Regions from separate parts of the Homo sapiens genome. Here regions 2 and 3 are each linked to region 1. Evidence: fine-mapped expression QTL. A gene starts in region 1. Each other region holds a variant in brackets. All regions are shown on one strand. Distances are between the middles of the regions.

Evidence for each region. PIP is the estimated chance that this variant, and not a neighbour inherited with it, causes the effect. A credible set is the group of variants that fine-mapping cannot tell apart.
Region 2: its variant is the best candidate, but not a certain one, in a credible set for the expression of CTNND2 in esophagus muscle (GTEx, PIP 0.59).
Region 3: its variant is the best candidate, but not a certain one, in a credible set for the expression of CTNND2 in tibial artery (GTEx, PIP 0.81).

What each region holds. Positions count from the first base shown.
Region 1 is chr5:11,902,338-11,906,580 of GRCh38, reverse strand. It overlaps CTNND2 (catenin delta 2), which reads left to right and starts at 2,135. Exons shown (of 22, transcript NM_001332.4): 1 at 2,135-2,764. The coding sequence starts at 2,728.
Region 2 is chr5:11,947,914-11,952,156 of GRCh38, reverse strand. No RefSeq gene overlaps it. Among named protein-coding and RNA genes, the nearest start is that of CTNND2, 46 kb to the right of the region's middle. The variant A/G (reference allele first, on the strand shown) is at 2,482.
Region 3 is chr5:11,980,590-11,984,832 of GRCh38, reverse strand. No RefSeq gene overlaps it. Among named protein-coding and RNA genes, the nearest start is that of CTNND2, 78 kb to the right of the region's middle. The variant T/C (reference allele first, on the strand shown) is at 2,024.

The sequences.
Region 1 (4,243 bases):
TTTCAATGAAATGGGGCACTGAGCAAATGAAATCAAAGCAGTCCAGGACATTGGACTTTACCACTCTGCTTCCTAAATAACCATATCACACCAGCCCCAGCCCCAACAGTATCTGTAGGGACTGCCTCCAGCTCATTTCCCAGACACACAATTAGTTGATAGAATTTGTCATTGCTCATCTCGATAGTAACTAAAAAACGTTAGAAAATTATTTTCTTTACTTAGATCTATATCAGGCATAAAAGACACATATATTACCTGTGGATAGCATCTACACATCTACCTCCATTTTAATCTAAAGAGTAACTGATGTCCCCTCATCTCCCTTTCCACCTCCCCACTGACTTCTTGAGTTAGAAGATGCAAAGAGAAAACCAAACGATAGCAGACTGACAGAAGCTCAGGTGGGAACTAAGAACATCTCTTGAAATATAATGTGGCCTAATGGATATGGTGCTGCTAATTTGTCTTGTACCACGTACTCAGTGTAATTGAACTGCCTTTCTGAGAACTAAGATAAAAATTACAATTAAACGTGTGATGAAAAAAATGGTCTTGCATGTCTTCCCTCACAGGACTCAGGATATTTTAATATCAAACTGGCTTTAAGACACTTGGAGTTAGCTTGGAGAACTGTTTTTTGCAGGTGAGACAAAGCCTGTGTGTGCATGTCCACACCTGGGGTAGGAGGAATAAAAGCGAACATTTGTACTGTTGTCAATAGTCTGCTTAATCTGCTCCTCCTAGCAATTATTTGTTACCTATTTAACCTCTGTACCGCTTTTCTCCTTCACTCTTACTTCCATTTATATTTCAACTTACTCCCAAGTATAATAAAGAATAGACTTGAATATTCAAATCATTTAAGTTTGTTGGATAATCTCTTTCAACACAAAATAGAAGCACAATGTTACTGAGAATCGTAAGCACCAAATCCCTTTTATTACAATTTCCTGCATTCTGTCATGCTTATTTGTGTTTCAGAAACAAGCTCTGCGGGGGTGGGGGGGGTGGGGGGGGTGGAGGAGATCACAACCTCAGACAGTCTGCGGTGTTCAGGGTCATGCCCGTGGCATAATTAGGAGGAACATTCGACCTGGCCCCTGGGCAGGCTGTGCCCTGCTTGGCTTGGCTTGTGAATGCAGCAGACGTGAGCCCCGTCCTGACTGCTGCTGAATCAGAGGGACAGGGGCGAAGGCCCAGAGGCCTTCCTTGGCACATGTTTTGGGTTTCGTTTTTCAACAAGACTTTGAATACGGTGATTCCACTTGCTGTATTTCACAGCAGGCTACGCATGGGGAAGTCCCGATGGGGTCAAGGAGCAGTCAAGCCAGGAGGTGATATGGAAAACTGATTTGAACGTGAAGAAGGCAATGCGAGATGCACTGGAAGACTGTGGGGAAGGATCAGGGGAGTGGTTCACTTTGAAATAAGGAAGAAAAGGAGGAAGAGAAGGTGGCAGAGATGCAGCAGAAGATACCAAGAGAGGAGGACAAGGTGGCACAAGAAGGGGAGGAGAGAGAACTTAATCTGCTCAAGTTCCAGACTGGGCAAGGGTCTTTCTTGCAGGAAGTTTACAGACATTCCAGTTTCAAATCTGAAGTGATTTTGCCTAAGGAGAAACCCTCACTACCCGCCAAAAACATGCCATCTGAACAGGGAAGGTGATGGCAAGATTGGGCAGGTGCTGTGGAGAAGACCTCTGCTGGACTTCGTGCCTCCTTAGCTCTGGAATCACAGGATCTGCAAGAGCATCTACCTGCGCTCACCAGCACGTTCCGCCAGCCTCCCTCCCCCAACCCACCTGGCCACTCTAGGACCCCTCGCACCCTGGTCCTTTGTTGCAGGCTGACATCTGCCCCACCAGAGTCAACTGTCAGCGCCTTGCACGTGAATTAGGGAAGCGGAGTAACCTGGGGTTCCATCCCTTCCCGGGTCCCTTCCAGCTTTCGCCTAGCTCCGGAGCATCCACCCATCTCAGGTCCAGGGCGTGCGTTCCCAAGGATGCTCGGCCCTCTCCCAACCCGCGGCCTCCTCCCCTCTCTCCCGCGGCTGCCGCTGCTGCCGCGAAAACCAGGAGAAGTGGAACGCGCGCGGCGAAGCGCCGCTCTCGCGGCGGCACTGGGCATGCTCCGCACCCGGGGCCGGTTTCGGCGGCGGGGCGGACGCTCCCTCACTAGCCGGGCGCCCGGGCCGGCCGCCGAGGTTTAGGTGGAGGCTGAGGCTGCCGCGCGCCGCGGGAGGAGCCTCGCCCTCGGCGGCTGAGGCGGCGGCGGCACAGGTGGCGCGGGCCGCGCGCGGGGCGCAGCTCGGGAGCGCTCGGCGCCGGGCGCCGCGGCGGCCCCAGGCTCGCGCCCGCGGCGACAGCCGGCTGAGCGGAGCTGCGGGCGCGGCGGCTGCTCTCTCAGCCCGGCCGGCTGGCGGCGGCGCCCGGAGCCCCGAGGAGCCCGCAGGAGCCCGTGGAGCCCGCGGAGCCGGGCAGGGGGCGCTGCGCTCGCCGAGCTCGGAGGGGCCGCCGGGCCGGGCGCTGCGCACTCGCGTCGGGAGCCGCCTCTCGCCCGCGGCGCTCGCCCCTGCCGCCCGCCAGCATCCCTTGTCCCGCGGCCGCGCTCAGACAACAAAAGCGGAAGATGCTGCAGTTGGGCAAGGTCAGGACCTTGCCCTGAAGCCGGGCGGCGCCGCGCACGCCTCTTCCCGGACTGAGGAGCTGTCGCCGGCGGAGGGTGCATGTTTGCGAGGAAGCCGCCGGGCGCCGCGCCTTTGGGTGAGTTGCGGGGCTGGGCGGCCGGGGCCGGGCGCAGCCTCCTCCCGGCGCCGTCCTCCTCCTCTTGCCGCTGGTGGGGGTGGTCCTGGGCTCCCGGCCGGCAGGCGGCGGCGGCGGCTGCTGCGGGGTTTCTGCCTGCCTCGGGGAGGACCGCGATCGCGCCAGGTCCCCCTCGGAAGCCGCTGTGCCTGGAAGGGGGTCCGGGGTTAGTGCCTTTCTTGGAGCGGTTACCAAGTGGCTGCCCTGCGTGCTCCCCCTCCCTGCCACCCATCTCCCCGGGAGGAAGCGTATTTAGGGCAACACCGACAATGCTGCTCCCCGCCACCCTGAGAACATACTCGGTGCATTCATGACGTCCCTAATATACGGGAGGAGACGGGGTGGGGGTGGGGAGGACTTCCCTCCAGTCTTTTGCCCTTATGTTCAATGTCATTACGATGTTTGGCTAGAACAAAATGGAAAGACTTAGTCATATGCGTCCATGGCCGTGTCTTCAGGCTCCCGCGGCTTGCCAGACCCTGAGCCCCCTTGGTCTATATTTAGCGGCTTCCCAGCAAGCCTTTGCAGCCGGCTTCACAGGTTTCGGGGGCTTCTGCGTGCTGACAATAGACAGCCAGGCTCCAGAAAGCGCCGCCTGAAAGCCAGGTTTGGAAGGCTGTGCGTGTGTATGGGAGATGAGCGATGCAAAATTGGGGTGATCCGTAATTAATGGCTGAAAGCGAAGCTGCTTTTTTCTTTTTTTCCCGACCCTCATCTTATTCTGGTGTGTAGTGTGTTTTCTTCGATTGCCACTCGGCAGGTTGAGCCTCTGCTTTCAGAATTAAGTCACTAGAAAGGTGATGCAGCCTCCCTGGTGTTTGTGGTAGGAAAACAGACTTGGGAATTTTTGGGGTGTGTGTGTGTGTGTCACAAATAACAGTTACTTCCAAAATGCCCAAAGTTGTATTTTGCTGTAACCGTGGGGGTATGAAGGGTGTGGGAGATGAGAGATAGAGGGGCAGGTTGTGTTTCCAAGGTGTTTTTTTTTCTTTTCTTTTCTTGTGTGCCTCATTTGAGCTGATCTGATTCGCCTTAGCTCTGGCAGGTGTTATTAAGATGTATTTTTACTGTGCTCAAGCAAATATGTTGATTTAGAAAACAGAGAATGTTGTCAGCATAGTATTAGGCCTGACAGGTGTAAATTTTCACTTTTAAGAACTATGTGACCAATATTTAAGAGTCTTGGGATTTTCTGCAGTGACTTCCATGAAAACAAGGAGGTGCTGAAACTCCCTAGGAGTTATCTCATTGTGCATACTTCATCAGGGGCTGAAGCTACCGAGGGCAGTCCAGCTGGTCTCTGCTGCTGGTCATTCACCTACATAATGACAAGGCTTCGGGGCTGCACCACTTCTAAAATCCCATGGAGAAGTGTTTGCTGTGACTCATATCAAGTTATGGCGGTGAACCTGTCATTATTTTGGGGATTTCTGCTACGAG
Region 2 (4,243 bases), 46 kb before region 1:
CTTGCTTCCCCTTCACCCTTCTACCATGATTGTAAGTTTCCTGAGGCCTCCTCAGCCATGCCTCCTGTACAGCCTGTGGAACTGTAAGTCAAATAAACCTCTTGTCTTTATAAATCACTCAGTCTCAGGTAGTTATTTATATTAATAATGAGAACGGACTATTACAGGTCCCTTTGTGATGGGTTCCTCAACTATTTTTAGTTTGGTACCCCCAGGTGTTGTCCTTGATTTCCATTTGTTCGGCACCCTGGTGGAATTGAGCCATTGCTATTCATTCATGTTTACTATTTCTTGTGCTCCTATGTTATGTTGTACTGTCTAAAAGTGTTGTTTTTCATAATAAGCAAAATCACACAATATAACCTAGGCATAGTCCCTATAAACTTGTTTAGCTTGCTTCATACCATAGTGAGTTTGCAGTTCTCACCAGATTGGCATACATCCAGACATTTCAGTGGGTCACCAATAAAGCCGAATGAAGTCCATTTCAACTCATGTTTTGTTTTGTTTTGTTTTGTTTTGTTCTAAGAGTGTGGCTTTGTTCTAGAGAAAGCATTCTCTCTCATTTCCACTTATCAAGAAGCACAGATAGTCACATCTGCATTTAGTGGCAGACAATTATCAAATTTGGGGTCAAACACACAATGTACACAAGTATCACTAGTGACCAACCATTGCCAGCTCCTATGGGGTCAGCTAAGTCTAAGTTATCTTCTTTTCCAGGAAAACTTTTTTTTCTCTCATTACATTCCTAAATTTTGCACCTAACTCAGAACACATTGAAAGAGATTTACAACAAAATTGAGACAAGACCCAAAATAAAATTATTACCCTGCAGATCAAACAGTAAAATAGCCCATTTTAAAACTGATCTTGTATTGACAAGGATGCTTGTTAACATTGTAACAAAAGTGGAATAATAATGGTTTTATTTTACAAAAGAAAATTCAAGCCAAAAAAAACTTCCTCCATCCAGATTAATAATTGTACTTCAAGGGAAAAACATGCCTATCTTACCCTTAAATAATCAAGTTGAATTGACTATATATATAAAACTAGTCAACCTCATCAATTCCTGGTGGACACAGGTACTATTTGTTCCATGTGAAATCCTTCCTCTTCCTCAGAATAAACTTACCACACAGGTAGGAGGTATTTCAATAACCCACAGGTTTTTACTATCTCCCAGTTTTTAACACTTGGGCATTTGACTTAAAAACATTCTTTCAGCCTCTCTAATAACACAGCTGCAAATTTGACAGGGAGAGATTTACTTTTCAAATGAGATCATAATATTAAATGCACACCAGAAGTTCCAGGTATGTTTTGAAATTTCAGAGGATTTCTCTGTTCATGATCAAGTTGTAGATTATACTTTGATATACCTTTGTCCTCTCCATTACATTTGATGCATACCTCCATTAGCGATCTTGACATCATACCTGACACACTATGGGACACACACTAACATGGGAAAATAATTGGAACAGATCTTATTAATCTTTTACCTCACCAAACTGTTACCCAATCTTCACCAATATCCCTTGAAGCCAGAAGCAAGAGAAAGTCTCAGACCCATTGGCAAAGGCCTTATATCCAAAGGCCTTCTCTTACTCTGAACTAGCCTTTGTAACATTGTAACACTTCCATTCTACAAGGAAAAGAAAGAAGAAAAACACCACCACCTGCAAAACAAATGGCCAAGGATATGTATTTGTTCAAAACCTCAAGGCCATCAATAAAATTGTTAGCCCCCACTTCTCACTTCTCACTTCCCAGTAGTACCTAATCCAAATATCACCTTGTTGTCAATTCCTAAAATTACTTAAGTCCTTGTGGCAGATCTGTGCTCTTTTTCAGCATGCCCCTAGAGCAGACAACAAATATCTTCTGGTCCTACTTGGGGAGAATGAAAATATGCCTGCACTGTTATGCTCTAGAAGTTAACTAAAGCACCCTCATATTTTTTCCAGACCTTCAATCAAGACAGAAGGTCTAAATTTTCTTTTGATTCAGCTTTGACACAATATGTAGATGACCTATTTTGTTGAGAGAAAAAGGAAACCCATAAAAAAGGAATCCATTTACTTGCTCTCAACTTTAGTGGGAAAGAACATAAAGTTTCAAAAGCTAAATTACAATTTTACCAAAACACAGTCCATTATAGGCCATGATCTATCTAAGGAGAAAAAAAAAAGGCCTCTCTTCAGATAGAATAAACACTACTGAACTGTTCCTAAACCTCTTACAATACAATAATTGAGAGGATTTCTGGGTTTAACTGGATATTGCAGACAACATGTGCCAATTTTTTTTTTCTGAAATTGCGTCAATTTTATTAACTGACTAAGTCCTAAATAAGAGACTCTCTCTTTTAGGATTCAAAACATGAACAAGCCTTCTATTACCTAAGGAAGGTTTTTCAAAGCTTTCTTCCCTAGGCTTCGTTAACTGCAAACAGCCTTTTTTGTCTATTTGTGC[A/G]TAAGTGGTTTGAACAAGCCTTTTTGTCCTCTGTGGTTCATGGGAAACAAAAAACCCAAATGCTTACTATAGCCTCATTTGACTTGTTCACTTGGTCTTAGGCCAGTTGCTATTACATGTCAATATTTCTGCTGAACTAGTTCTAGGCTCCATGCTTGACCTAGGTCTCAGTTAAACTACTGAGTCCTACAACACCCTGAGTCCTTCTGCTTTCCTGCCTTCGTCATAATAAAGAGGACCTCAAGATCACCTTACCATGGTTAGGTAACCTTCACTATCTCACCCAGATGTATTAGAGGCTTACATTGAGCAACTTCATCTAATATCATACCTCAAAACTGAAACTGGAGGGGATTAAACAGGATACACTCTCACTAATTTAAGCTCTCCTTTAGAATACAATCTTATACCTGAGAGAAAATCAGCCCAGATGGGAGAACTTACTGCACTTGCTAGAGCTTTTCCATTCACCGAAGTTCAGAGAGGGATATATACTGATAACAAACACGCTTCTGGAGTAATACATGATTAGGAGATGCTTTGGAAACAAAGGGGTTTCTAGGTAGCTGACAACACCGACCAAAAAAAATAGACTATAGTTAAGGAACTTTTAGAGGCACTCCTACTTCTTAGACAGATGACTATGATAATGGTTTAGGTCCATGCAAGAAGGGGCAATATGGAAGTTAAAAGAAATTATCTAGTAGATCATTATGCCAAACGAGTCTTTACCAAGGTTATAATCCTATCTAAAGTACCAAAAGATAAATCTATAGGTGGATTCCAAATAAGCCACTATACAATAATAATTGTTTAGTTTGAGATTTTATAAAGAAAGAATTGAAGCTACCTGGTCTAACCCTTCGCTCAGGTAATCTCTGACACTCCCAAGATAGTCTGATGGTGGCACCAGATGAATTCAAATAGGTATTCCATAAATTTCTCTATGAAACTACTCATCATGATACAAACTGTTCACTATCTCCATCAACATTGGTGAAGAAACTTTACAAAGACTACTGAGTCTGGCATGTGTTCATGGCATGTACCACCTATCAACATAACACAGGGCCAGGAACCAAAGCTTCTAGGTACCTGTGAACACTTTAGATGAATTCTTACCACTTTTCAAGACTTCTGCTGAACCAATCAACCTTTCCAGAAGAATGTAGGTGCTAAAAGTCATGTAGTTTTTCAGTAAATGATGACACCTTACAGAATTCTTTTATAAAATTGTTCTTGTAAAGTACACGCCTTGGTCACTTGACATAAAAGTAGATATGCGCCAGGCTGAAAACAAAATCAAGCTGCTTTTTAGCAACTGTAATTACTGATAGTTCTTCAGCAAAAATGCTTCAACACATCTTAAAAATAGATTTATGGTAATTAAAGCATGTTCAAATTCCATGGAGAGTGGAACCATGAAGGAACGAAGGAAGGAAGGAGGGAAAAAAGAAAGGAAGGAAAGAGAGAAGGAAGGAACGAAGGAAGGAAGGAAGGAAGGAAGGGAGGGAGGAAGGAAGGAAACAGAGAAAGAAGGAGAAAGAGTGCAGTGCATTTTAAAGAAAATTCCTGCAAAGCCAGAGGGAGTTCTTAAGCTTATACAAAGGGGCCTTCCTGAGTGATCCTGTGATGCTCAGCCACTGGCCTGTGGGAAGTGTAGCCTCAGAATAAGTGCATTGTACATTTCAGATGCAGCTTGGCCTTTCCGCCAGTTATGTTCCACAAGGTAGAAGATCCAAGATGTATGTGATGGGCCGAA
Region 3 (4,243 bases), 78 kb before region 1:
AATATTTTCTGTGTTTTTATACTTTAATGTACATTATGAATCAGAGTACCACAAAATTATGATTAGATTTATAGAAACATTAATAGGAATGATGGTTTACTTCTAACTTATGATCCATTATGGAATTTAATCATACAGCCCTATTCAACTTCTAATTTGATTAAACTAAGCATCAAATTCACTTTCAAGTTCTCTGAAAACAAAATGATCAATTTATAGGTCTAAGAGTTTTCTTTTTAAATTTTACCTTCCATATTATTTTTCCATCAGGATCACTTGTTCTTAAAAATTTGTACACACACCACTTAGATGTTAATTTCCTGTATAAATCAGGGAAGGCCTGAATCACTGTCATTGCCTGCCATCTCTCTGCAACTTTCCAAGGCTGATCATGAACTGCTTCACGACTGTTGTGCTGCCAAGCTTGCCATGTGTCATTTTCCAGTTGACTTCCAAAATATGGCACCATTTTCCACATTAACACTTATCTGTGAAGACATTATGCACTGTAATCAGGTTCCTCCAATGTAAAACACACACTTCCAAGTTCAATGTTAAATCATTAAATCAGCAATGTTAGGTGTGGGGCCTAGAGTTTGATCTGCATAAGAGGGAAAGAGGGAAATAACCAGGAAACTCAGACATTCTATAGTAAGTCATAGCTTGAGTCAATCATAAGAACTGATTCAAGTGTTATTTAGTACACATTTGTAAATAAGTCTACAGTCATCACCAATTTATCCCTCTTTAAAAATTATAAATATATGTATATATTATCAAGCTTGGGTGGGAGAGAGGGCAATATTTGTAAGAGAGATATAGAATATGAAATAATAAATCAGCTTGCCCCTGTAACATCTGTTCTTTTTCCTGGAAATTTCTCCCCATACTTCTTCCTGTGATTCCCTAGGATTTAATAACCTTCACTACAAGGTTTCCAGATATATGGCATCAAATATTTTGGACCATCCTCATATCTAAAACCATCAGAACTAATGAATATTAAGGTTGCATAGATTATACCTGAATCTATTATGATTACAAGCAATATGAGAAAATAAGAATACAGGGAAAGCAGTTATAATGCTTATGGTTATAAGCATTATAAGCTGAATTTTTATAGGCATTATGAGAAAATAAGAATATAGGGAAAGGAGTTATCACAGAGACTTTAGATAAGGAAATATAGAATGATCTCCAGCTCTAATGGTATAAAATCCAAGAAAACTTAAAACTCTAAACTTCTGAGGCCAAGAAGAAAGACTTAGGGATTCTTTAGGTACACCTAAAAAAAAAAGTTACAATCTGATTAAACCATCCAATACCAACTGTTCTCAGTAAGGGCATTTGTTAGTGATCTCACGGTCCAGGAGATAATGGTACAGAATTAACAACCAATGGATGATTTTCAGGAATTAGTAAAGTCAATTGGCAATGCCTGAGAATATGTAATAAAGTTCAGCCTTACTCTTGATTAAGAAAAAAGCAGTACAAGTATTTGTTTTTTCAAAATAGAAATGTAGTGCAAGACATAAGAAGAGAAAAAATAGCCTCCAGAGAAGAGAAATATAAAAACATGAAAAGGGGAGGGCTTGCTGGGAGATTGTAAAAATGAATAGAGCAATGAAACTAAGCAATAACATGGAAAGATGGTAAATGTTGATGTATCATATTTTGGTCAGCAATGGAAGTTGGCTTACTGGGGAAGAGACAAAGATGGCCCTAGGGAGTAATAGAAGCAAAGAAGCCGAGGAAGAAAATATGCTGAATATAGTCTCAGAGTTGGGAATCTAAGTTTAATTTTTAAAAAGTCAGGTTTCATAAGACAGAGAAGTGCAGAGCAAATAAAATAGAATTTTCTAACACACAGTCAAGTGGGCCTGGCACTCTGCTCCTCTTGCTTTTTATTAAATCCGACCTTAAGTTAGGAGTTTAATTCTAGATTTCACCATACAATACACATTTTTAAAGCAACACACGCCCCTCAGCATTTTTGACTGAGGAAATGTGTATAAAGGCATTA[T/C]GTAGCTGTTCTTATTCCTTTAATTTTGATGAAGTGTGAAGGTAAATTTATGACTGTATTATCCAATCAGTTTGGTTCAGCATTGTTAGGAAAGGAATATTGTAAATACTCTTAATAAAGAATAAACATTCATAATTTAAGATTGCCAATTGTCAAGAACTGAAACAGAGTAAGTATGCCTACCTCTGTTTTTACAGTTCCTACACTCCCATCATTTTCCTCAACCCCAAATCCCACCTCCACCCCTAAATATATTTTCCATCTCTTTTCTGCTGACAACTACATTTCCACTCCAGTTGTATTCCTCCTCTCAGTCAGGGCATTTGGTCCTTTCTTAATGCTCTGCATTGACAAAGATGGCAGCCACTGTGTAGGTGAATATGTGATAAATATTACTCTAATCTAGATAGTGGCACAAGGACCAGTATTCCTATATCATCTGCTACAATGTCACCAAGATTTTCTTCACAGAGTAATGTTTTTAAATGTGCATTGTCCATGTGACTTTGAGTCAATGTACACCTTTTTATTTAGTGTTCCTCCCATCCCTTTTTCCATATGCTCATTGTTAAAAGTGAGTCACTAGGTCCAGGTCACTTGAGGAAGGAGATGCACAAGGGCGTAAATACCAAGCATGGAGATCACAGCGGGCCACCTCAGAGGCTGTCTACCACATCATGTTTAACCAGATTCTCTGATTCATGTGGTTGGCACAAACTGGAATGACCCATGACCCTGGCCTATATATATAACCTCCTCCTTTTTGAGTATGGGTAGAACCTCTAAATATGATGAGATAGCAATCCAGTGATTATGTTACGTTATATGACTGAGTTGACTGTAAGAAAGACAATCTGTATGGACCTGTCTGAATCGTGAGCCCTTTACAAGCAGAGAATGGTCTTCATGTGGTGGCAGATTAGGAGGTCAGAGAAAGTAGAATGTGGAAGGATACTCAAACCAAGGAGATTATTCATTGTTGACTTTGAAGATAGACAGGGCTGCATGGAAAGGAACAGAGAACAGCCTGTAGGAGCTGAAGGGAACCCCAGTCTCACAACCAGCAAAAGAACAGAGACCCCAGTCTATAGCCACAGGAAACAAATTCTGCCAACTACAAGAATGAGCTCTGAAGGGGATCCTTCCCCAGAGCCTCCAGATGAGACCTTTGCTCAACTTGGATTTCAACCTTGTGATACCCAAACAGAGAACCACTCACGTTGGGCCAGACATCTGATTTAAAGAGCTGAGGGATGACAAACGGCTCCTGCTTTCAGCCACTCCATTTGGGTAATTTGTTACACAGCAACAAAAACTAAAGTCCCCAGGTCAATCACCTTAACGTCCAGAGGCAAATTCTCCTGGAGAGTCTTCAGTGTTTAGACAACCCTGGACAGAGATACGCTTCTGTGCAGTAGTTTCAACCTTTGGAATTTTTCTAATGGTATATTTAACAGTAGGTGTTACTGTTAAAGATATACACACACATATATAGACACATGGATGCATATATAAAAATATATATGCATATATAAAATATATATTAAAATATTATATATATAATATATATAATCCATCTCTTAGGATTGCTTTGTCATTTATTGCAGCCTGGCCCCATTCCCCCAAGTTGGTAGCTAATGATCTAAACCAGAAGTTCTGTTTTAGTCCATTCAGCCTGCTAAAACAAAATACAAGAAACTAGGTGGCTTCAAAACAACAAAAATTTCTTTCTTTTCTTTTCTTTTCTTTTCTTTTTTTTTTTTTTTTTCTGAGATGGAGTCTCGCTCTGTCGCCCAGGCTGAAGTGCAGTGGTGCGATCTCGGCTCACTGCAAGCTGCGCCTCCCGGGTTCACGCCATTCTCCTACCTCAGCCTCCCCAGTAGCTGGGACTGCAGGCGCCCACCACCAAGCCCAGAACCTCGTCTCTACTAAAAATACAAAAAATTAGCCGAGCGTGGCGGCGGGCACCTGTAGTCCCAGCTACTCAGGAGGTTGAGGCAGGAGAATGGCTTGAACCCAGGAGGCGGAGCTTGCAGTGAGCCGAGTTCACGCCACTGCACTCCAGCCTGGGCAACAGAGCAAGACTCCATCTCAAAAAAAAAAAAAAAAAAATTTCTTGTGGTTCTGGAGTCTGGGAAGTCCAAGATCAAGGTGCCAGCAAATTTGATGTCTGGTGAGGGACTGCTTTCTGGTTCATAGATGGCGCCTTCTCACCCCGTC